6 separate regions of the Homo sapiens genome follow, and regions 1, 2, 3, 5 and 6 are each reported to be linked to region 4. Evidence: microRNA targets listed by miRTarBase, many of them from high-throughput screens and not tested one by one. Region 4 holds a microRNA gene; each other region holds the end of a gene's coding sequence.
The links. Region 4 holds the annotated microRNA hsa-miR-4772-3p (CCUGCAACUUUGCCUGAUCAGA, at 1,938-1,959, shown strand). A microRNA usually pairs through its seed, bases 2 to 8, with sites in the 3' UTR of a target mRNA and lowers its output. Matches are read on the target gene's strand: a 7mer-m8 pairs with bases 2 to 8, a 7mer-A1 pairs with bases 2 to 7 and ends in A, and an 8mer does both.

Region 1 (4,106 bases), not on the chromosome of region 4:
AGGATCCACACAGGAGAGAAACCTCATGAATGTAACGAGTGTGGCAAGGCCTTCAGCCACAGTTCCAATCTCATCCTCCATCAGCGCATCCACTCTGGAGAGAAACCTTATGAATGTAATGAGTGCGGGAAGGCCTTCAGCCAGAGCTCGGACCTCACCAAGCATCAGAGAATTCACACGGGGGAGAAACCCTATGAATGTAGTGAATGTGGAAAAGCTTTCAACCGAAACTCATACCTGATTTTGCATCGGAGAATTCACACTCGAGAAAAGCCCTACAAGTGCACTAAGTGTGGCAAGGCCTTCACCCGCAGCTCCACCCTCACTCTGCATCACAGAATCCATGCCAGAGAGAGAGCCTCTGAGTACAGCCCAGCCTCCCTTGATGCATTTGGCGCGTTCCTGAAAAGTTGTGTGTAAAGGAAGAATTTGCCATCAAGCCATTTCCCCCTTTTGTTTCTAAAATTATTTCAGAGATGTGTGCTCCTGGAGGGAAAAAGAAATACAGCCTCAACAGATTAAAAAACAAAAGTCACACTTAAGGATCCTTCTAGTCACATCAGCAGTGTTCTGCCTTTATGTAGTAGTTGGGCATATAATCCTTCCACACAGCCCCTGCAGGGAAAGGCTAATCTTACGGATAATCCACGTGAGATTTCCACACAAGAGAAAAGCACACGCATAGTGAAATGTCAGTCTTTTCAGTAATGAGGATACCTTTAAGGCACTCTTGGACTCTCGGCAACCACAACATAATAGTTGAAAGATCAAGATTGGCTCCACGAAAGTGATACGGAGGTTAGGATGCTACTTGCTGCAAACAAGCCCTACTTTGGCCAACATCCTGCTTATTTCTCAAAAAAGAGGGACAGTGAAAACAAAAACGACATTGGGACATGCTGCTCAAGGTAGTTATATATACGATAAGTTGTATATATGATCACTGGTAGCCTACCAAAGCTGTAGAAATCTAGGACTGTGCTAATCAGTATCAAACCAAAGATTTCTATCTCTTCCCGAAAGAGAGGGTATGTGCACCAGTCTACAGTTCCAAAGGACTGCAACAAATGTAGATGGTTCTGTCCTCATCCCTGAGATCAGTTCTACTGAAATGGCAACAACAACTCCAAATACATCTCTCCCTTCTTGAAATCCCTAAAGCACTATCGCACTCCTAAATGCATTTCTCCACAAGTTAGCACTTGATTGTATACTGTCTTTTAATCCTTCATTGTTTCATGTATGAAGTTTTTAATCACCCCCTAACCCCCAAAAAAGATTCGGTTGTCAAGGGATATATTTCTATCCCTGCCAGCACAGTGCTGGACATAGTGAGTACTGAACACCTAAGAGGCACTCATTCAGACTGACTTCTACAGGACTTCTACGTGTGTGATAAAAGCCTGTGAATCGTGAGTCCCTGAAATATGGTAGCCTGGCCCAGCTTCTAAAGAGGACCTTCGTAGCCACAAGGCATGCTAAACCTCTAGGGTCTGATGCTGTTTTTGTTCCAAATATAAACGAAAGGCACTAGTCAGCCGCCTGCATAGACTTTCTAAACAGTGAGTAAATACCATGGAATGTCAGAAATGACTTTATCATCGTCATCTTGAAGAAAAATATGAACACTGATGAAGGTCATTTTTTTTTTTTGACATCTTTCTGTGGCAAAGCTCTTAGAATTCTTTGCAGTTAGCTGCTGAACAGTATGATGATTTGGGGATTTTCTGAATCATTTGTACTTAGATACTGGAGTTCAGAAGATGTGATTTTTGTTGCTTTTCAGAAAAAGGAACGTGGTAGGGAGTGTTTTTTCCCACGCTTTTCCAGTAACTTTGCAAAAGCATTAATTGTTCACTGGCAATTACTAAATGTATTTTGTTGCTCTGAGAAACTCAGCAGTGTACTGAGATGTGGCTGGCTGTGCCATCGTCATAGTGCACAGTGACTTTTCTGTTTCTTATCACTAAAGACTGAGGTGAGGTTATGAAACTTTCATTGGTCCCATCGTTGTGCGCAGGGTGCAACTGGCTACCTAGAAGCTGATGGCAGGAGACTGTTTCACACACAGGAGATTGTGAGCTGTGTAAGTAGTCATCGCCACTCAAGTAGGACAAGGGTCCTACCCAAGGCTAGGACCGCCCTGCGGAAACAGAAACATAGACTGAGAACAAACCTCAAGACTATCAGTGTGACCTCCCCATAACAAGAGAACCCCATATATAGTTTGAGACTTTCCCTTGAGAAACTTATACTAAAACTATTACTCATCAGTCATTCACTGATCAGCAGCTAAAGTCCATGAGACCAAATGGTTTTATATGGAACCAACGAAGTGGGAGCTAAAACTGCACAGTGGTCATTCTTTGGCCTCTCCTTGGCTTTATGACTTAAACCAACTACAACTTCCCTATAGCTTCTAAGCAGTTTCATCAGCATTACTTGGGAAAACGTGTTGCAAGTCAACCAGTCACTAGGATATTTCTACCCATGCAACGGAAGAAAAACCCATTACTCCAGAAGAGTATATCTAAGTAACTAAAATGGAGGCAGAAAATGTTTTAAGGATTTTCTTCAAAGAATAAGCCACAGCAATGGTTTTGTAGAAAACTCCTGTGCTTTTGAGCAAGGACTTTTGCCCTCTAGAAAGCAACTGAGGCCAGGTGCGGTGGCTCACGCCTGTAATCCCAGCACTTTGGGAGGCCGAGGTGAGCGGATCACCTGAGGTCAGGAGTTTTGAGACCAGCCTGGCCAACATGGTAAAATCCCGTCTCTACTAAAATTATAAAAATTAGCCGGGCATGATGGTGGGCACCTGTAATCCCAGCTACTTGGGAGGCTGAGGCAGGAGAATCACTTGAACCCAGGAGGCAGAGGTTGCAGTGAGCCAAGATTGCACACTGCACTCCAGCCTGGGTGACTAGCAAAACTCCATCTCAAAAAAAAAAAAAAGAAAGAAAGAAACTGAAAAGTGAGGTGTGGAACTCCAGGCAACGACCCAAGCACTTATTTTTTAAGAGGGAAAGGACTTTGGTCATGTTTACATTGGCCTTTGGTTTTTTTTTTTCTTTCAGCCACAACTATATGCTGATATAACTCAGCCATCACTTTTGAGTTTTGTTTTTAAATGAAGGTTAAATGTGACCTGTGCCCTCACATTTAATTCCGTTTCATGGAGACATCTTCCTGACTTTGTTGGATAGCTGCCACTAGGGTTGCTTCGATCTTCAGCCACATGCTGTCCTTGAAGCAGCTATTTGAAGATGTGTTTTCTGAGGAAAACAGGCTACAACTGTTTATTAAAACCACTTGCAGTGCATTCGTTTATCAGATGCTCAGTGCAAAGTGTAATTGGGTCATGGTCAAAAACGCTTGCAACATCTAATTGGCGTTCAAGATAGTCATTCAAAAGTTCTTGGCCCGCTGAAGTCTGTTAACAGTTGAAACATTCTACAGTTAACCATTAGCATGCTAGTTGTCCTAATGGAAATTTTTGAAGAGTTTTTCAATATATACCCTACCCTTGCCAGGAAGAGAAGTAAAATCCTCAGGTTGTGGGGTATTTGTTTCTACTCCAGCCTGGCAGGCAAGGCTAAAACCTGAGATTATCGATCTATGAGACATCTTGATATGTAAAGCACTTAATATTAAAGGCATAAAAGTGAAACTGCTAAATATGTATAGAGAGGTTGACGTGTGATACGTGGGACAGTTCACATAGACATCAGAGAATTTATTCCAGAAAGGAGCCTCCTGAATGTGATGAATACGGCAAAGCCTTTAATCACATCTCAGCCCTTAGCATCGGAAAGCTTATACTGTAAATAAACTTGATGAATATTATATGTGAGGAAAACTTTCATGTATAGCACTCATTGCTTCAGACAGAAAATGAATTCCGTCGGTATGTTCCAATCGTGATGAATTTGAGAAACATTGCAAGAGGGAGCTCAATCTTGGCCGGGCGCCGTGGCTCACGCCTGTAATCGCAGCACTTTGGGAGGCCGAGGCAGGCGGATCACGAGGTCAGTAGTTCGAGACCAGCCTGGCCAACATGGTGAAACCTTGTCTCTACTAAAAATACAAAAAAAAATTAGCTGGGCACA
Region 2 (4,106 bases), not on the chromosome of region 4:
AGAATGGGTGAAAATGACATTTTTAAGCTTTGTATCTTTCAGAGTATCTCCTTCTCTCTGTGCACATGGAGTTTTGTGTCTCTTTTGCCTTACCCCTAGTTCTCTAGACCTTTAAGACTCTTGTTTAACTGTGACGGTATTTGTGTTTGAATAAGAGAGATGCAACTGAAATACACAATTAGCATTGTCTTCACTTATTTCCATTTTCCCTCCTTTTCTCCCAAGGTGTCTTTTGCAGCTCACATTGCAGGTGGATTTGCTGGAATGTCCATTGGCTACACGGTGTTTAGCTGCTTTGATAAAGCACTGCTGAAAGATCCAAGGTTTTGGATAGCAATTGCTGCATATTTAGCTTGTGTCTTATTTGCTGTGTTTTTCAACATTTTCCTATCTCCAGCAAACTGACCTGCCCCTATTGTAAGTCAATTAATAAAAAGAGCCATCTGGAGGAAATAAAAAAAAAAGGAAGACTCTATGAAGAAACAGAGAAGTCTCAGAAAAGGCTAACAATTTTATATAGAGGACAAAACAGCATTAAACTCATCAGTTGCAAAGATTGCCTATAAAAGGACCTTAGGATTTAAGGAAGGGGCTTCTTAATGTAGAAAGGGAAGAAGAAGAGAGAAAAGAAGGGTAGTAAAAACTAGAGATTGGGGCCAGGCGCAGTGGCTCACGCCTGTAATCCCAGCACTTTGGGAGGCTGAGGCGGGTGAAATCACCTGAGGTCATGAGTTCAAGACCAGCCTGACCAATATGGTGAAACCCTGTCTCTACTAAAGAAAATACAAAAATTAGCCGGGCGTGGTGGCGTGTGCCTGTAGTCCCAGCTACTTGCGAGGCTGAGGCAGGAGAATTGCTTGAACCTGGGAGGCGAAGGTTGCAGTGAGCCGAGATTGCGCCACTGCACTCCAGCCTGGGTGACAGAGCGACACTCGGTCTCAAAAAACAAAACAAAACAAAACAAAATTAGAGATTGGGTCTTTCCCAGGCATATGGTATTCTATAAAACAGACTTACTCTCCTTGGAGGATATATTTTGGAGAATGCTTCATAAAATCTATGAATACTGTACAATGCTGATAATAAAAACTTTTTATACCTGTGTCAGACTCCTGATAATCACTTTAAAATAGATCACTGTTTGAGGAGATAGATCACTACTGTTTGAGGTGTTTTACACACTTTATTGATAATATTATCAACAACCCGGAAAGGTAGTTATTACTCTGCATCTTAGAGTAATCTTAAAGAATCCCTTAAAGGAACCCTTAAAGAATTAAGTACTTGTCTGAGGGGAGCAGAATTTAAACATAGATAATGACTTGGAAACCTGTAGTCTCCCCTATAGGTCCAACAATGCTGTGTTCCCCAAACACTGAAGGGTATCATAGGAGTACAGGAACAAACATCTATGCGGGGTACACCATGAATGGTGGAAATATCTCATAGAAGAAGACTGAGGATTTTCTGGACTGCTAGTTTAAGATTCTGATACCGTGTCTAAGATCCCAAGGAACCGGGCACTGGCTTTCTGGTGCACACTATATACCTAGACTTCAGATTCTCATCTGTGATCAGACTGTCATCCTTCATGTGGGTCATGGCTCTCCTAGGAGTGGGTAGGATTTATTTACAGAAGGTAAAATGTCATACCTGAAAGCTGAGAAGCATGTGTCATTTTCCTGTATAGAATTCAGACTGTGGTTTATTATGTTTTTGGAAATGGTAGTTTTGGGTCATCTGAATATAGGAAATATAATTTTTTCTTTTATCATCAATGTATTTATTAAACACCCATCTAAACATGTCACTGTATCTGGAAGGGGCATATACACTTAGTTAGATATAGTGAGAAAAGTTAATACTTTAGTATTTTGAGAAAAACTGATCAGAAATTTGTTTAAAAAGTTAAATTTAAGTATAAACATGGGAATATGAGTGTTTTTTTTTTTGTTTTGTTTTTTTTTGAGATGGAGTCTCGCTCTGTTTCCCAGGCTGGAGTGCAGTGGGCTGATCTTGGCTCACTGCAACCTCTGCCTCCTGGGTTCAAGCAATTCTCCTACCTCAGCCTCCAGAGTAGCTGGGATTACAGGCATGCGCCACCACATCTGGCTAATTATTATTTTTTTTTTTTTGAGACCGAGTCTTGCTCTGTCGCCCAGGCTGGAGTGCAGTGGCCGGATCTTGGTTCACTGAAACCTCCGCCTCCTGGGTTCAAGTGATTCTCCTATCTCAGCTTCCTGAGTAGCTGGGATTACAGGTGGCCGCCACCAAACCTGACTAATTTATTTATTTATTTATTTATTTATTTATTTATTTATTTATTTATTTATTTTTAGTAGAGACGGGGTTTCACCATGCTGGCCAGGCTGGTCTCGAACTCCCGACCTCAGGCCCTCAGGCGATCTGCCCGCCTTGGCCTCCCAAAGTGCTGGGATTACAGGTGTGAGCCACTGTGCCCGGTCCCTAATTTTTTTTTTTTTTTGAGATGGAGTTTCGCTCTTGTCATCTAGGCTAGAGTGCGATGGTACGATCTCGGCTCACTGCCACCTCCACCCACTGGGTTCAAGTGATTCTCCTGCCTCAGCCTCCTGAGTAGCTGGGATTACAGGCACCTGCCACCACGCCTGGCTAATTTTTGTATTTTTAGTAGAGACGGGGTTTCACCATGTTGGCCAGGCTGGTCTTGAACTCCTGACCTTAGGTGATCCGCCCACCTCGGCCTCCCAAAGTGCTGGGATTACAGGTGTGAACCACTGCACTCGGCTAATTTTTGTATTTTTTAGTAGAGACGGTGTTTCACCATGTTGGCCAGGCTGGTCTCAAACCCCTGACCTCAAGTGATCCACCCACCTCAGCCTCCCAAAGTGCTGGGATTACAGGTGTGAGCCACCATGCCTGGCCTTATGAGTGTGTTCTTGGTTAAACAAAGATTCAAACAAGAAGTTAAAAGATAAAATCTCAGCCAGGTGCAGTGGCTCATGCCTATAATCTCAGCACTTTGGGAGGCCAATGTGGGAGGACTGCTTGAGCCCAGGAGTTTGAGAACAGCCTGGGTAACATTCAAGAACTCTACAAAAACATAAAAAATAACCAGGTGTGGTGGTGCTTGCCTGTAGTTCTAGCTACTCCAGAGGCTGAGGTGGGAGGATCACTGGAACCCAGGAGTTCGAGGTTACAGTGAGCTATGATCATGCCACTGCCCTCCAGCCTGGGTGACAGAGTGAGACCCTGTCTTAAAAAAAAAAAAAATCTCCTTTTGCCTTCTCACTTCAAACCTGCTGTTTTTCCCTAGTGCTGACCATCATCAGTGGTCACAACAGTATGGTCTGTATCCTTGCAGACATTTTTCTATGTAGGATGAGCAGAAAGGAAAATGGATTTAAGTTAATGTCCAACTCATCCACTGTATTGAACTTCACTGAATCTGCTCTACACCCTCAAAGGGACAAATCTGAAGAACAAATTAGAGGTGTCCATGGTATAACTCCTCCTAAGCATCATTTGCTTCTCAGATTGATCTCAACTAGGAAAAGTTTTTGTTAATCGATTTTAGCTAAATATATATGTGTGTGTGTGTGTGTGTGTGTGTGTGTGTGTGTGTGTGTGTATATATATATTTTTTTTTTTCTTGAGACAGGGTCTTGCTGTGTCGCCCAGGCTGGAGTGCAGTGGCGCCATCTCGGCTCACTGCAACCTCTGCCTCCTGGGTTCAAGCAATTCTCCTGCCTCAGCCTCCCGGGTAGCTGGGATTATAGGCATGTGCCACCATGCCTGGCTAATTTTTGGTATTTTTAATAGAGACTGGGTTTCACCACATTGGCCAGGCTGGTCTTGAACTCCTGACTTCAGGTGATCCGCCTGTCTCAGCCTCCTCCCAAAGTGCTAGGATTATAGACATGAGCCCAGCCTCTAATTAGATATTTTTATGAAATGTAGGTTTTAACAGGATAAATGTGATACATGTATTGTTCTATAACTTGCTTTACAACATGACCTAGGGACCTTTCTCTATTAGTTCATAGAAATCTTTATTCTCTGAATTGCTGAATGATATAGATGTACCATAGATAACCATTCCTCTGTCAGACATTTAAATTATTGCT
Region 3 (4,106 bases), not on the chromosome of region 4:
CAGAGGTTGCAGTGAGCCGAGATTGGGTGACTTCACTCCAGCCTCGACAACAGAGTGAGACTCTGTCTCAAAAAAAAAAAAAAAAAGGCTGGGCACAGTGGCTCACACCTGTAATCCCAGCACTTTGGGACGCCGAGGTGGGTGGATCACCTGAGTTCACGAGTTTGCGACCAGCCTGGCCAACATGGTGAAACCCCGTGTCTACAAAAAATTAGCCGGGCGTGGTGGCGGGTGCCTGTAATCCCAGCTACTCAGGAGGCTGAGGCAGGAGAATTACTTGAACCTAGGAGGCAGAGGTTGCAGTGAGCCGAGATTGCACCATTGCACTCCAGTCTGGGCAATAAGAGCAAAACTCCATTTCAAAAACAAACAAAAAAAAGACTCAACCCAGAATTCTTTTTTTTTTTTTTTTTGAGATGGAGTCTCGCTCTGTTGCCCAGGCTGGAGTGCAGTGGTGTGATCTCAGCTCACTGCAAGCTCCGCCTCCCGTCAACCCAGAATTCTATATCCAGTGCAAACACACTTAAAGAACGAAGGCAAAATACAGACATCCTCAAATGAAACAAACCTAAGATATATATTTCTTGCCAGCAGACTTGCCTGAAAAGAAATGCCAAAGGAAACTCTTGGTAGAAGGGAAATGATACCAGAGGGAAAGCGGGAACTTTGGGAATTAAATGATAGTAATAGAGATTGCACAATTATTTTATCTTTAAAATATGGCTGGAGGCGGCTGGGCGCGGTGGCTCACGTCTGTAATCCCAGCACTTTGGGAGGCTGAGGTGGGCGGATCCCAAGGGCAGGAGATGGAGACCATCCTGGCTAACATGTTGAAACCCCATCTCTACTAAAAATACAAAAAAATTAGCTGGGCGTGGTGGTGGGCTCCTGTAATCCCAGCTACTTGGGAGACTGAGGCAGGAGAATGGCATGAACCTGGGAGGCAGAGCTTGCAGTGAGCCGAGATCACGCCACTGCACTCCAGCCTGGGCGACAGAGCAAGACTCTGTCTCAAAAAAAAAAAAAAAAAAAGAAAAAAAATGTGGCTGGAGGCCAGGTGCAGTGTAATCCTAGCACTTTGGGAGGCTGAGGTGGACAGACCACTTGAGCTCAGGAGTTTGAGACCAACATGGCGAAATACTGTCTCTACTAAAGATACAAAAAATGACCGGGTGCGGTGGCTCACGCCAGTACTTTGGGAGGCTGAGGCGGTTGGGATCACAAGGTCAGGAGTTTGAGACCAGCCTGGACAGCATGGTGAAACCCCATCTCTACTAAAAATACAAAAAACTAGCCGGGCATGCTGGTGGGTGCCTGTAGTACCAGCTACTCCGGAGGCTGAGGCAGGAGAATTGCTTGAACCTGGCAGGCGGAGGTTGCAGTGAGCCGAGATCACACCACTGCACTCCAGCCTGGGCAACAGAGTGAGATTCGGGAAAAAAAAAAAAAAAGCAAAAGCAAACAAACAAAACTCAATAGTAAGAAAACAAACAGGCCAGGCACGGTGGCTCATGCCTGTAGTCCCAACACTTTGGAAGGCTGAGGCAGGTGGATCACTTGAGGTCAGGAGTTGAAGACCAGTGTGGCCAACATGGTGAAACCCCCTCTCCACTAAATATACAAAAATCAGCCAGTGTGGTGGCACATGCCTGTAATCCCAGCTACACAGGAGGCTGAGGGAGTTGAATCGCTTGAACCTGGGCGGCGGAAGTTGCAGTGAGCTGAAATCATGCCACTGCACCCCAGCCTGGGCAACAGAGCATGACTCTCTCAAAAAGAAAGAAAAGAGAAGAAAAAAGAAAAGAGAAGAAAAAAGAAAACAACCCAATATTTTAAAGTGTGCAAAATATATAAACAGACATTTCATCAAAGATGCTATATAGATGGCAACTAAGCACTTGGGGAAAAAATGCTTAACATCATCAGACATTAAGGAAACGCAAGGAAAACCACTATTAGATATGTCTACATACCTATTAGAATGGCTAAAATAAACTTTTTAAAAAACTAAGCTGGGGCTGGGCGTGGTGGCTCACCCCTGTAATCCCAGCACTTTGGGAGGCTGAGGCGGGTGGATCACTTGAGCTCAGGAGTTGGAGACCAGCCTGGCCACCCAACAAGGTGAAACCCCATCTCTACTAAAAACATAAAAATTAGCTGGGTGTGGTGGTGGGTGCCTGTCAGCCCAGCTACTCAGGAGGCTGAGGCACGAGAATCACTTGAACCCAGGAGGTAGAGGTTGCTGTGAGCCAAGATCACGCCATTGCACTCCAGCCTGGGCAACAAGAGCAAAATTCTGTCTCAAAAACAAATAAACAAGAAAAGGTTTTAAAAATTGATAAACCACTAGCAAGAAAGAGAGAGAGGACACATCAGGCTTGAGAGAAGTGACATCATCATAGACTGTGCAGACATTAAAAGGCATAGGCATATTAGGAACTAGATATTACTAAGGCAGTAAACCAGATCACTAGCAAATTCGTTGAAAAACACAATTCATCAACTATTGGTTGATAATACTGATACGCATCTTCTGTGTGCCAGGGCCTTGAGGCCCTGCTCCAGGCAGAAACTCGGCAGTGGTTGGGAAGGCATCAGATGTCAGATGGCACAAGAGGACTCAGAGCTGAGGGATAATGGGAAAGAACACAGAGGAATCCAGCCATTTCCACAGCGTCCAGCTCTGCTGTGGGAGGCTGGGAACAGCCCAGCACTACCACCCTGGACTGGGAGGACAAGACCACAAAATGCAGCTTCCCTGAACCTCCTCTTGGTGATGGGGTTGATGTGGTCGAGGTAGAGGTGAGTATGTCTGGAGCCTCAAGCAACTGCCCATACCTGCTGGGACCAGGCCGAGGTGCCCAGGGAGTAAGAGGCAGCATCCTGGAAGAGCACAGATGAAAGAGGCCCTGAGAAGTGTTGGTTGGCCAGGTGCTGTGGCTCACACCTGTAATCCCAACACTTTGGGAGGCTGAGGCGGGAGGATCACTTGAGCCCAAGAGTTCAAGACCAGCCTGGGCAACATAGTGAGACTCATCTCTACAAAAAATAAATAATAGAAAGAAAAATGTGAGTTGGCCAGGCATGGTGGCTCATGCCTGTAGTCCCAGCTACTCAGGAGGCTGAGGTGGGAGGATCACTTAAGGCCAGGAGTTCAAGACAAGCTTGGGCAACACAGTGAGACCCTGTCTACAAAAAATAATAATTAGCCAGACGTGGCGATGCATGCCCAGGCTCCCAGCTACTTGGGAGGCTGAGGCAGGAGGATCGCTTGAGCCTGGGAGGTCAAAACTGCAGTGAGCCGGACTGCAACACTGCACTCCAGCCTGGGTGACAGTGTGAGACCCTGTCTCAAAAAAGAAAAAAGAAAAGAAAACTGTGCTCTTAAGAGCCAGTTCTCCACTCCTCTACCTCAGGAGCCACCCCAGAACCCATCCACTTTGAGGACACGAGATCCCAGCCCACTCAGCCCTGGGAGTCCAAAGACATTTTAAACAGAGCCTCTCTTCACATTTATTAATTCCTGGGAGGAATGAGGGAGGCTTCTCCAGCCCCCCAGAGACCCCGGCCTTGTGCTGCAACAGGAGGGGAGGGAGCCAGTCCAGAATCCCCGGCACTTCTGAGGACACCAACAGCACCCTGGGCCCGCGGCTGCATCAGCTTTCTAGACAACGGGAGAAAAGAGAAATGGTGGAGGAGGGGAAATCCTATGCCCTCCTCCTCGCGGAAATCAAGGCCGACCTCCCTGACGCCCCCCCGGAAGGAAGCGCGTGGTCGGCTGCCAGCCGAGACCCCCATCTGCGCCTCCAGCTGCAGGGCCTTTGCTGGGCGGTTCCTCGCCCGCAATTCCCCCACGAGCCCTGGGGAGACCCAGCGCTAACCAGGGGTGCCCAAGGGAGGAGCCGGGAGAGGCCCTCCTGGAGGTGGGCACAGCCCAGGCAAACATCAGCAGACGGAACCAGCACCCGGGACCCAGGGAAACGTCACCTGCCACCAGGAGCTCCACAGGGTCGCTGAGCTCCGATTCGAAGGTGTGGGGCACCCAGGAGCGGTAGCGGCACCTGTAGTTGCCGGCGTGCTGGGGCCCCACGAAGATCAGCTCGAGG
Region 4 (4,000 bases):
TTGTATGGAATATCTTTGTCCGTTTTTTCCCTTCTAGTCTATATGTGTCCTTATTAGTAAATCTCTTGAAGGCAGCATATAGCTGAATTTTTAAATGTCTTTTGATTGGAGACATATTGTAAATGGTTTGATTAATCCATTTACATTCAAGGTGATTATTGGTAGATAAGCACAGGCTGTTGCCATTTTGTAACTTATTTTCTGTGTGTTTTGTAGGTTTTTTGTTACTTATTTCTCTGTTAGTATCTTCCTTTGTGTCTTGATGGCTTTCTTTGGTGCTATGCTTTGAATCTTTTATATTCATATTTTGTGCCACTACTACACGTTTTTGTTTTGTGGTTACTATGAGGCTTCCATAAAACACTTCATAACAGGCTAGTTAAGCTAATAACAACTTAACTTTATATACAACAAGTACACTTTCATTTCCTCCCCGCTACCTTTTATGGGTTTGATGTCAAATTTTACATTTGTTGTAGTTTCTGTTTCTTAATGATTAATTACAGCTAGGATTGTTTTTATTAGTTTTGTCTATTAACCTTCATAGTAATGATAAATTGCTTTATATACCACCCTTACATTATTAATGAATTATGAATATGACTATGTATTAACTATTACCATTGAATTTTTTACTTTCATATTTTTTGTTATTAATTAGCAGGCATTCATTTCAGTTTAAATAATTCCTTTTAGCAATTCTTAAAAGTAGACCAAGTGGTGATGAACTCCCTTAGCTTTTGTTTGTCTGGGAAAGTTTAATTTCCCTCTCATTTCTGAAGGACAGCTTTGCTTGGTTGGCAGTTTGTTTGGGTTTTTTTCCTTCAACACTGAATATATCATCCCACTCTCTCCTGGCCTATATCGTTTCTGCTGAGAAATCCACTGATAGCAATATTGGGACTTTCTTGAACATGATATGTTTCTCATCTCTTGCTACTTTCAATATTCTTTCTTTGTCTTTGAATTTTTGACAATTTGATTATGATGTATCTTGGTAAACCCCTTTTGGGTTGAATTTGATTGGCAACTTCTGAGTTTCCTATGCATGAATGTCATCTTTCCCTAGATTTAGGAAATATTCAGCTGATATTCCCTTAAATATGCTTTCTGACTTCTTTTTTCTTCCATCTTCCAAAATTCCTAATATGTGAATCTTGAAGGTGTCCCATAATTTCCATAAGCCTTTTCATTCTTTTTTCTTTTTGCTCCTCTGACTAGATAATTTCAAATGTCATCTCTGACATCACGGATGCTTTCTTCTGCTTAATCAAATCTGCTGTTGATATTATAGTTCAGGTATTATATTCTTTATCTGTAGGATTTCTTTATTTTTCAAATACCCACACTTCAGGGAGAAGGATTTCTATTTAAAACTTTTTTTTCTATTTCTCTATTATTAAACTTTTCATTTTGTTTTGAAAATTGTTTTTAAAATTTATTTTATTTTTATACATATTTTCTTGTAGTTTCCTAAACTACTTTAAGAGGATTATTCTGAAGTTTTGTCAGTTATTTCTTAGATCTTTACTTCTTCCTATTTCATTATGATAGCTTTCTTAGTTTCTTTTGATGGTGACATATTTCCTTGATTTTTCATAATCATTGTTCCTTGCATTGGTGCCTATGCAGTTGAGGAAACAGCCACCTCTTTTGGTCTTTGTAGGTGATCTTTGGTGGTAGCAGACCTTCACTATGTAGTCTAGCCTGGGATTCCAGGTGGGCTAGTTGGTAGCAATCCCAGATAAGCAGACTTTGGTGTTGAGTTCTCTAGGTGGGCTTGGCTGTTTTCTGTGCACTGAGGTCAAGTGGAATTGCTTGCTGTGCTTTGCGTTCCAGTGAGACCACTTTCTGAACTCTATGGTCAGGTTGAGTCGCTGGCTGAGCTCTGTGATTGCCTCTGATCAGGCAAAATTGCAGACTGTCTTCCCAAATAGCCTGCAACTTTGCCTGATCAGAGGCAGTCACAGAGCAATACCCTTGTGTCTTCCATTCACCCACAACATGAAGGAATTGCTTAATTAACTAAAAGGGCACCCAAATGCCCTACATCTGGCCGAGAAATACTGTTGTTAGAATGTGTAGTTGGGCAGGACAACAGGCTAGGCCCTGAGGCAAAGTTAGTTATCTGGGATTGCTGCTCAGCAATTTGGGATGGGCAGGGGGAGAAACTAGGCTACAAAGATGTGTGTGGGCTTGATCTTACCCCTGGGCCAGGGATAGCCTTAGGCAGGGCATTGAGGCTTGATTGGGTTGCCACGCACCTTCTGGACCTGGGTGGGGCCAGCTGCTCCTTCTGCAGATAACTGCTGACCTGCCTTTGCCTCCTGGCCTGGGGAAGGCTGCAGGAAGGTGCTGGAGCCTGGCTGGGTCACCATGCTTGGAGATTATTAATTAAAATATTTAATGACTGAAAAAGTCAGAATTAAAGTGAGTTATTTATTATTTATGCTACTAACTTTTTCTATATATTTTTCTAATTTCTAAAAATGTAATGAAAAAATAGCCTTGGCATAAACAAACTTCATCTTAAATAAATAATAGTTACATGTAATGTAACGGCATTTTATGATCTTCAGCTAAGCAAATCCTTGACACAAGTCAAAATTATAATCAAGGGTAGTAGGAAAGTCTCTCCTGTACTGGCCTAGGGCACCGAGATATGAGTTTTGACGACATTGCTGTGACCTCCTGTTAGTAGGACTTGCACCTTGAATAACATTTCCATTGGTGGTTTAAGACAATCTCACTCATGCCACATTCTCTTGCCACACTTCTGACATGGCTGCTGGGTTGATTTTAAGCCCTATGTTGCATGGAAGGTTTTTGTTTGTTTGTTTTAGAGATAGGATCTTATTCTGCCACCTAGGTTGGAGTACAGTGGTGTAATCACAGCTCCCTGCAGTCTTGAACTTCTGGGCCCAAGTGATCCTCCAGCCTTAGCATCTCAAGTAGTTGGGACTACAGGCACATACCACTGCACCCAGCTAATTTTAAAAATTTTTTGTAGAGAAGGGGTTTCACTATGTTGCTCAGGCTGGTTTCAAATTCATGGTTTCAACCAATCCTCCTGCCTTGGCCTTCCAAAGTGCTGGGATTACAGGTGTGAGCCATCATGCCAACCACAAAGAAGTTTGTTTGTTTTTTGAGATGGAATCTCTCTCTTTGTCGCCTAGGCTAGAGCGCATCTAGCTCAGTGCACTGAGCTAGAGACTTGGCTCACTGCAACCTCCACCTCCCAGGTTCAAGCTATTCTCATGCCTCAGCCTCCCAAGTAGCTGGGATTACAGGTGTGCGCCACCACACCCAGCTAATTTTTGTATTTTTAGCAGAGATGGGGTTTCACCATGTTGGCCAGGCTGGTCTCCAACTCCTGACCTCAGGTGATCCACCTGCCTCGGCCTCTCAAAGTGCTGGGATTACAGGTGTGAGCCATCATGCCGACCCCAAAGAAGTTTTGTACCTATACCTGATACTTCTCATTTCCTAGTTCTTGTAACTGGCACCTGTTGGCATCCTGTGGGCCTAGTGCTGTGGATAACTGGTAAGCATGGTGAGACTGGCTAGATTCAAAGATTAATGTGTTTCTAAATAGAGAATAAGTTAATTTAATGTGTTTCCAAATAGGAAGAAGATAATTTAGATTATATTTCTCAAAACTGTTTCTAGGGTTGAAACATTGGCCCATTTGATTATTCTCACTATGAACATTTCAGAACTCTGAAGATCTGGACAGCTTTCTAACACCTGTTCAAAACAATCATCTGTATGCTGTCTAACCAGCACTGAAACAGAGGAAGAATTTCCTTACTTGTTCAGAACAGAATATTGCCACAGCCCCACTATTGTTTTAGCTTTGGGACAGCCTCATTATATGGTTGATTTATTCTGAGTTGGCAGGCAAGTCTTTCCACAAAAACTGAAATCAAGCAAGTTCTCTCTATTTTTGTTTGTAGAGTAGAATTTGTAACTTATGTTCATGATTTTATATTTATTTCTG
Region 5 (4,106 bases), not on the chromosome of region 4:
TGCTGTGAAGCATTCCTCCTTCTGCCTCCTTCTTCACCAGCTCCCAACCTGCAGAGCCCCTATGCCCAGGTGCCCTGCATCCTGCTCTGCCCACAGCTGGACAAGAAGATGGTCCGTAGGCAGCCGAGCAACCACTATGCACTAGACCAGTGCACACCCCCTGGCCTGGATCCTGACATCCGCAGCCCCTTCTTCCAGTCAGGATCTCAAGGAAACAGGTGGGTGCCCAGAGAAAGGGTCCCAGCCCAGGCCCTTCCAGATTCTTCCTTAAGAGGCCCCTGGCCTAATGCCTGGGAATCCATCTTTCTAAGAGATCATACCTGAGAGGCTGCTTGCTCCAGGGAGGAGAAAGGGTAAAAGGCGAAGAAGACAAACCTTTGTTGAGGGCCTGTGTACCCAGCAGATTGTTCCACTGAAGCCAGAGTGCTTCTGCTTTCCTGTGTCCAGGACTCAGTGGCACCTAACTGAGTACTCTGAGTTCCCTATGGTTCCATATTAGGACTAGCAGACTGTGCACCTGGGCAGAGGGGAACGTCTCCTGCAGCAGTCCCCCTCCAGGCCGCTGGGGAAGGGAGCTCTGGACTTGGAATCAGGCCCCTAAGCACAACTGCTGGTTCCACCATTTCTGAGGGGAGGCCTCCTCTCTCTCCTCACTTGGGCACGCACAGATGGCTCATATACTGGCAGATAGGGAAAGGGCCACATGTCTCCCACCCTTCTGCCCTACTCCTCTCCCCAGGGAACACAACTCTGACAGCAGAAAGTGGCTCAGCTCTGTGCCAGCTCGAACCCACTGACCCTCTGGAGGCCTGACTCTAGGCAGCTGCTCAAGGCCTGTAGACAGATGGGCCACCAGGCAGGAGCTGCTGCTGGGATTTGCTTTTGTGGCCTGGTGAGCTAATAAACACCAATAACTTCAGCCTCTGTGCCTCTTGCCAAGAAAGGCCCTCAAGTTGTCACCCAGCCACCACTGGGCTCTCAGAGTGCAGGGTTCCACCTCAAAGCCCTGCGCGGGGTTGGGATTTCTGCTACAGGTGCCCCTGCGTGCAGTCTTGACCTTCTGTGCCTTCTCAAAGCACAGGGCTAGGCCTCTCCTCAGGTGAGCACATCCCCCTCTGGACTGGGAGCCCCACAAAAGCAGCCATTCTCTCTCTCCACTGGCTCTAAGACAGGCCCTGTGGAAGAGCAGGAGGTGGCCTCTGCATGCTCCCCCGACAGAGCCCCAGGACCCAGGGCTCTCATTCTCTGGGAGCCCCAAGAGGGGTGGGTCCTTTCCCCTCAACCCACATACCACCCGGCCTCGTGTTTTACCAAAGACAGTCTTTCCCTGGGACTGGGCAGAGGGAAATCCCCCAGGGTTAAATAAGCGGCCACAGCAAGAGGTAGAGGGCAGGGACTGAAATGAGGACAAAGATCTGACAAGTTTAAAACATGTATTTAAAATACAATTTATAAAATGCTTAATCTGCCGACTCAGGAGCCCGCGGTGCAGGGTGGGGTGGGAGTGGGCAGCTGCCCGCTACACCAGCAGAGTAAGACTGCAGGGGTGCAGCCCTCCCTCCCATGCCCTTCTGTTCAGACACCCAAGGGGCCCATGTGCACCCCTGGGATCACACGACCAGAAAACAGGACCCCAGAGGTTTCTTGAGTCTCTGCTTACCAGGGAGGCTGGGTACAGCCCTGCCAGCCCATCCCTGAGCAGGGCACCCCCAGATGGGGCAGAGCAGGGTATGGCTGGGCAGGGCAGGGCTGGGCGGGGCAGATGGGCTCTGGAAGGGGCTGATGGTAGCAGATAGGGTGTTGCCTCCTGCCTGCAGGTGGGGAGCACCCTGATTGAGTGGGCTGAGAAAGGTTGGTCACCAGGCCTGGACCCCCCAGCTCCTTTGGTTATAGGCTGACATCAGAGTAGTGGCTCATGGGAAGCGGTTAGCTGGAAGGTCTGAGGCCTGGCCCATGGGGTCAGGGAGGAGCTGGGGGAAGGGGACAGTACCGTGAAGGCAGATAAAGGGGCAGCAGCCTCAGGTTTCTGCCCCCCATCCCCCTGGGGTTTTCCAAGCCAAAGCCTGCAACTTACTTTAAAAAAGAAAAGGAAAAAAAGCACTTAGGAAAGTTACAGACAACTACCCCCAAAAAATACCCTCCCACACACAAAATCCAAACCGTTTCCTCATCTCCCTCCCGCCTCCCCCGACACAATACAGTTTCCTGTTTTCTTTCTTTTTAAAAACGTTGCCTGCTACCTCTCCATTTGGGAAGCCCAGGGCATGACTGCTGGTGGGTGGTGACAGGCACACAGCGGGCAAAGCCCATCTTTGGCCAGAGGGAGGTGGGAGGACCAGTCCCTGCCACATCCTCAATCCACAGACACCCACCAGCCAGCCTTTACTTTGGCCTCCCACTAGAGGGTAGTGGGGCAAGAACAGGTGGTCCCAATGGCTGGGCAATCAGCACTTCTGGCGTTCCCACCTGGACTACCTCTATACCCTTCTCCAATTAAAAGGAAAGTCTCACTTTGGGCGGGAAACCACTATTACATAAGGGATGGACACTACACATTTAGAATGTGGACACTTGGTTAGGGCAGTGGAACTATAAAGATAGCAGCCAGTTTTCTTCCTTGCCTTCTCCTGAAGGTAATCCTCCCTCTTACTGACTGAAGCTCTGGTTCCAGCTCTGCTCATGGGCAATGCCTGGCTTTACAGTTATAAGGCTGTGCTATGGACTAGCTGCTGACTCAGCTGGCAGCTGGCCCTTCCTCCGGAGGAGAGGACGTGTTGGGGCATGGCTTACTGGGCCTGGCCTACCATTCCCACAGGGAACCAACGAGGGAGTGAGCCTGTGAGACTCAGCTTGCCACCTTGGCCACCACGTGCTGCCCTCATCACAAAAACCACACCAACCACTCCGAAACGTATCTGCTGGTCAGGAGCAGGGAGGCTGTCTGGCTGGCTGAGGGATAAGGCGCAGTGCAACGGAAGGGATCAGGAAGCCTGAGAGGAGCCAGGTACACACAGCTGCTCTGGGCAGCTGCCCTCTTAGTCTCTTCCACCTCAAGGAGCCAAAGCAAACCCCAGGCTCCAGGGACAGAGGATAAACTGCCTTCATTCCAGGCCCTCGCTCTGGAAAAAGGGGTGACGGGTAGCCTAGGCCTCTGAGGAACCAGTCTGTCATCAATCTTTGCAAAGCAAAGCTGTTCTTTTTCCAACTTTATTCAGAATGTTCTGCCTTCAAGGTACTGATTGCACACAGGAAATGTACCAGGTATAGTTACTGAGCTGGGGCCACCAATGGAGATGGAGCACTGCAGACCCCTAAGAGTTCAAGCCATGCTGGAGTGGGAAGACCTATCCACCTTCTGAACATACGAGGCAGAAGGCTCAGAGTCCTGGAGGCAGACTCTCTCCTGGTTTTCCTTGTGCTGATGGCAAAATACTAAACAAGTCTTCTCTCCGTCACTTCTAAGCCCAGGGATGCAATCTCACTCCCTGGCACTCTGCTTTCTTCTAGAAGTAGTAAGCCTGGCTGGTAGGGAACCACCCTGAGGGGTATGGGAAGGGGAAGTCGGTTCACTTTCCCTATCTCCCAAAATACTAGAGGTGGGGTTGGCACCCTCCCCAGGCTCTCCGAGCCTACAGAGCTAGCCCAGTCTCCAGGCAAGGCCCAGATGCCCTGGGACTTAGCTCGGGGAGGGAGGTATAGGCATGGGGTGCTCGTCTGTCCTGGCGGCTGCAGAGCCCTGCCCCTTTTCTGGGCGGCAGTAGGAATACAGAAGCTAAGCTCACCAAAATCCTATTGGTTAATGTTTCTAGTGAATTTCCCAGAAACATTTTTAAGTAGACTACCAAACTACCCTTTCTTAATTAAAAATTCATTAAACCACTAAAACCCCTCCCATGCACTTTTTCTTGCAAATCAGATATTTGTATAAACAAACAAAAATAGGAAGAAAAAAAAAAGAAAGGATATTTTCAAATGGAACTTACTTTTTAAGTGATGGAGACATGCACTTGGGGGTGGGTGGGTGTGAGTTTTCATTTGTGTTTTGAAATCCCAAATTAATGAGCATGATAAACTGTTATTGCTGGCACTGGCTTTACCCCAAGTGG
Region 6 (4,106 bases), not on the chromosome of region 4:
TTGTCTGAGTCAGTTATTAAATCGGTGGTTCCAAAATTCAGGTTGTTTTAAAAAGCGCCAACAGCCTCGTGGGGCCCTAATTTTGCATCCTGCTATTTGATTGGATGAGTAATTAATGCAGGGTGAGGTGCCGAGGTGGTGTTTCTAAACGTCTGTTGCTAAAGATAAATGTTGTAAATTAAAAAAAGAAAACATATGGAGCCCAGACAGGTTCCTTTACTGCTCCTGCCTGGCCATGGCAGGCTTTTATAATGTAACCCATTCTGCTCTGTCGCTTCCTGTTTCAGGCAGGCAATCCATGGACCTTGTGGAACTTGTGTCTCTTTTTCCCACGCTGGCTGGACTTGCAGGACTGCAGGTTCCACCTCGCTGCCCCGTTCCTTCATTTCACGTTGAGCTGTGCAGAGAAGGCAAGAACCTTCTGAAGCATTTTCGATTCCGTGACTTGGAAGAGGATCCGTACCTCCCTGGTAATCCCCGTGAACTGATTGCCTATAGCCAGTATCCCCGGCCTTCAGACATCCCTCAGTGGAATTCTGACAAGCCGAGTTTAAAAGATATAAAGATCATGGGCTATTCCATACGCACCATAGACTATAGGTATACTGTGTGGGTTGGCTTCAATCCTGATGAATTTCTAGCTAACTTTTCTGACATCCATGCAGGGGAACTGTATTTTGTGGATTCTGACCCATTGCAGGATCACAATATGTATAATGATTCCCAAGGTGGAGATCTTTTCCAGTTGTTGATGCCTTGAGTTTTGCCAACCATGGATGGCAAATGTGATGTGCTCCCTTCCAGCTGGTGAGAGGAGGAGTTAGAGCTGGTCGTTTTGTGATTACCCATAATATTGGAAGCAGCCTGAGGGCTAGTTAATCCAAACATGCATCAACAATTTGGCCTGAGAATATGTAACAGCCAAACCTTTTCGTTTAGTCTTTATTAAAATTTATAATTGGTAATTGGACCAGTTTTTTTTTTAATTTCCCTCTTTTTAAAACAGTTACGGCTTATTTACTGAATAAATACAAAGCAAACAAACTCAAGTTATGTCATACCTTTGGATACGAAGACCATACATAATAACCAAACATAACATTATACACAAAGAATACTTTCATTATTTGTGGAATTTAGTGCATTTCAAAAAGTAATCATATATCAAACTAGGCACCACACTAAGTTCCTGATTATTTTGTTTATAATTTAATAATATATCTTATGAGCCCTATATATTCAAAATATTATGTTAACATGTAATCCATGTTTCTTTTTCAAATCTAAAGTTAAAAAAAAATAGCAGAAGCCAGTGTCTTAAAGTCTATCTTTTGTTTCTAAGACCATGGGATTTCATAATCTCAAGATAAAATATGTATGAAGTAATTAATGTAGAATTTTTACACCAAATAATAAATAATGCTTAATAAACTAGAGATATGAGATGTGTAGGAAATTTGGTTAAACTTTTTTCAGATACTTTCTGGCCCAAATAATAATTTGTTAGCAAATAATATGACCCTTGAACTCAATGGCCATCTATTAAAAGACTGTTGTTCACACTGGAAAACATTTAAAGATGTGACTATATCCATGGGTGGATTGAATCACTCAAAATATATTAGTATCCTTCTTTAGGGATGGTTGGTTACAGACATGTATTTATTCAGGAGGCAGAAAATATTCCATTTTAATTGCTTATTAAAGAAAACATTAAATTCTAAATTATTTTGAGGACTGTGAAGACTTTTCATTAGTGTAATATTAGGTCATTGTCAATCTCCCAGAATGTAGTTCTATATTCTCTAAATATGAAAGTATCCAGAAAGGCCAGTGGTAGTAAAAAGCTTAGTGTATATAATCTCAAAAGGGATGGAATATTTACAACTCATATTTATAACATGTTGAATCTTCTCAGTTATCAGTAGTCATCAGAAGTGTCAATAGCTTTCTAAATAAATATTAAATATCTACTGTCCTGTAGTGAAGGAGTAATTTTTAGTAATTTTCTCTTTACAAAGTCTCCAGTGTTTCCAGGTAAATATTTGTGAAACAAAATACAGCAAACTACATTGTTACTTCAGTGTATTGTTGCCAAAAATGACAAGATATTATATTAAAATCAGTAAATTTTAGACAGATTTTAAAAATTAATTAGCCTACAATAGAGGTTATATGGTAACACGGTGATCTTCTAAGCAGTTAAGTGACTGACTGTTCTGGCAACAACGACTTCTCCGTGACTGAAGGGCCCTGTTCATTTCCTGATCCTGAAGCTCGTCTCTCTTTTGAGCCTCCGCTTGCTTTGGTCGATGGTTTCCCTCAGCTTTTTCTTTGCTGTTCTTCATCCTCGTTGTTGCTGTCATCATGTTCACTGTGGCTTTTACAATACAGCCTGTAAATTCCTTATGACATAGTTCAGTGCATTTGGCTTTATTGCCTGCTCCACAGTTCTTTACCTTTACTTGGCTTAGAGAAACTGTATCTTTGTTGCTTCATATAACCTTTCCCCAACCCCACTAAGCTGGACATAACTTATTAGTGGTCCTCCCGTCACTTTATTTGTAGAAATCTCTCTTTCACATGAGCAGGGGTTCTTTCATGTGGTTTAGCTGACAGCAGAACTAGTGATTCTAGACATTTTGCATGGCCCTCATTCAGTGGCTCACAAACATGAGGGAGCATCAGAACTACTTGAGGGGCTTGTTAAAACCCAGTGCGTTAGAAGTCGGATGCGGTGGCTCACACCTGTAATCCCAGCACTTTGGGAGGCCCAGGCAGGCGGATCACTTGAGGTTAGGAGTTCAAGACCAGCCTGGCCAACATGGTGAAACCCCGTCTCTACTAAAAATACAAAAGTTAGCCGGGTGTGGTGGTGCATGCCTGTAATCCCAGCTTCTTGGGAGGCCAAGGCACAAGAATCGCTTGAACCAGGAGACGGAGGTTTCAGTGAATGAAGATCGTGCCATTGTATTCCAGCCTCGGCAACACAGCAGGACTGTGATTTTCTTTGGAGACTCCTAGATTTTCTGTGGTTTTGAACTGAATTTGTTGGATGTTGGCAAGTGCCTCTTATGAGCTGTTTCTTTATCCTGCATTTGCCCCACAAAGACTTATCTGGAGGTGAGCAAAGTATGTTTGGTAGTGAGGTCACAAAGGCAATCAGCCCCTTCCTCCCCACTCCCATTGCCATCTTCTCAGTCCTTCTCCCTTTCTTTCCAAGTAGTTTACCCACCCCTCCTCTTTCCTCCCCTGTCCCTAAAATAATCCACGTGTCTTCCTAAAATCTCTCTTTGATCCTGTCCTTTGATAACACCGTCAGTGCCTACTACTGGGTCTAGACAGACCTCTGTTGAGCAGTCAGAGTCTTCCCTGACTCCACAATGCCCCTTTCCTTGGCTGACCAGTATGACTACTGGTCCCCACCTTTCCCTTGCCTATCCCTACCTCCCTCCTACTAGGTTGTCCCATCCCTCTCTTCACCCATTCATTCATGACCATTTTTCACTACCAAGCTCCCCCCCTCCCGAAGGAGGCTGAGGTTTTTGTGACTCTCTAGACTCTATTGTGGGATGGAATGAACATTGCTAAAGAATCTTGTGTTCGCTTTACTTTAAAAAGGTATTTTTTTCCTAATTATAAAACTGATGTGTCAGTTACGGAAAAATTAGAAATGCAGCACAAATACATGAATATTTTACCACAAAATTGCCATATAATATCTTGTCTTTTTTGGGGGTGTGAATTTTTTGCATTGTTCTGGTCATATTCTTTATCATGTAATTTATGTTCTTTTTTACTAAGTATTATGTGTGGTTATTATAGATTTTCACAAAGATATATTGCTGGTAATATATTTTATTGTGTAGTCTTATAATTTACTTAACCTTCTTTCAATTGTTAGAAATTTAGGCTATTTCCAGATTTTCAGTATTGTAAATAATGCTGTGATGACCAATTTTGTGAATAAAATGTTTTTATGTATTTCAGATTATTCCCTTAGGATAGTCTCTCAGTGCCAAGTTGTCAAAAACATCTCTATTTTGCTTATCTTCCTGCTCTCTTGCTGCCTTAGGGGGTAGTAAACTGAAACATAAAGTAAACAT

Region 1: miRTarBase lists ZKSCAN1 as a target of hsa-miR-4772-3p. Seed matches in the 3' UTR shown: 7mer-m8 at 2,877-2,883.
Region 2: miRTarBase lists RHBDL2 as a target of hsa-miR-4772-3p. Seed matches in the 3' UTR shown: 7mer-m8 at 877-883.
Region 3: the mRNA of A1BG is a reported target of hsa-miR-4772-3p. Seed matches in the 3' UTR shown: 7mer-m8 at 3,576-3,582 and 7mer-m8 at 3,307-3,313.
Region 5: miRTarBase lists SPATA21 as a target of hsa-miR-4772-3p. The part of its 3' UTR that is shown has no 7-base or 8-base seed match.
Region 6: miRTarBase lists IDS as a target of hsa-miR-4772-3p. The part of its 3' UTR that is shown has no 7-base or 8-base seed match.

The regions. Positions count from the first base shown.
Region 1 is chr7:100,033,778-100,037,883 of GRCh38, forward strand. ZKSCAN1 (zinc finger with KRAB and SCAN domains 1) reads left to right here. Exons shown (of 6, transcript NM_003439.4): 6 at 1-4,106. The coding sequence ends at 420. Among named protein-coding and RNA genes, the nearest start is that of ZSCAN21, 14 kb to the right of the region's middle. RefSeq lists enhancers at 3,553-4,054, 4,055-4,106.
Region 2 is chr1:38,882,803-38,886,908 of GRCh38, reverse strand. RHBDL2 (rhomboid like 2) reads left to right here. Exons shown (of 8, transcript NM_017821.5): 8 at 226-1,102. The coding sequence ends at 405. Among named protein-coding and RNA genes, the nearest start is that of GJA9-MYCBP, 3.2 kb to the right of the region's middle.
Region 3 is chr19:58,343,366-58,347,471 of GRCh38, forward strand. It overlaps A1BG (alpha-1-B glycoprotein), which reads right to left. Exons shown (of 8, transcript NM_130786.4): 7 at 3,988-4,106; 8 at 1,818-3,664. The coding sequence ends at 3,657. Among named protein-coding and RNA genes, the nearest start is that of A1BG-AS1, 6.6 kb to the right of the region's middle. RefSeq lists enhancers at 3,429-3,929, 3,597-3,876, 3,930-4,106.
Region 4 is chr2:102,430,399-102,434,398 of GRCh38, forward strand. MIR4772 (microRNA 4772) reads left to right here and starts at 1,891; the gene lies at 1,891-1,968. The region is part of intron 3 of IL18RAP (interleukin 18 receptor accessory protein); the gene reads left to right.
Region 5 is chr1:16,395,456-16,399,561 of GRCh38, reverse strand. SPATA21 (spermatogenesis associated 21) reads left to right here. Exons shown (of 13, transcript NM_198546.1): 12 at 41-218; 13 at 740-919. The coding sequence ends at 797. It overlaps SZRD1 (SUZ RNA binding domain containing 1), which reads right to left. Exons shown (of 4, transcript NM_001114600.3): 4 at 1,417-4,106. Among named protein-coding and RNA genes, the nearest start is that of SZRD1, 30 kb to the right of the region's middle.
Region 6 is chrX:149,479,400-149,483,505 of GRCh38, reverse strand. IDS (iduronate 2-sulfatase) reads left to right here. Exons shown (of 9, transcript NM_000202.8): 9 at 288-4,106. The coding sequence ends at 760. Among named protein-coding and RNA genes, the nearest start is that of IDS, 24 kb to the left of the region's middle.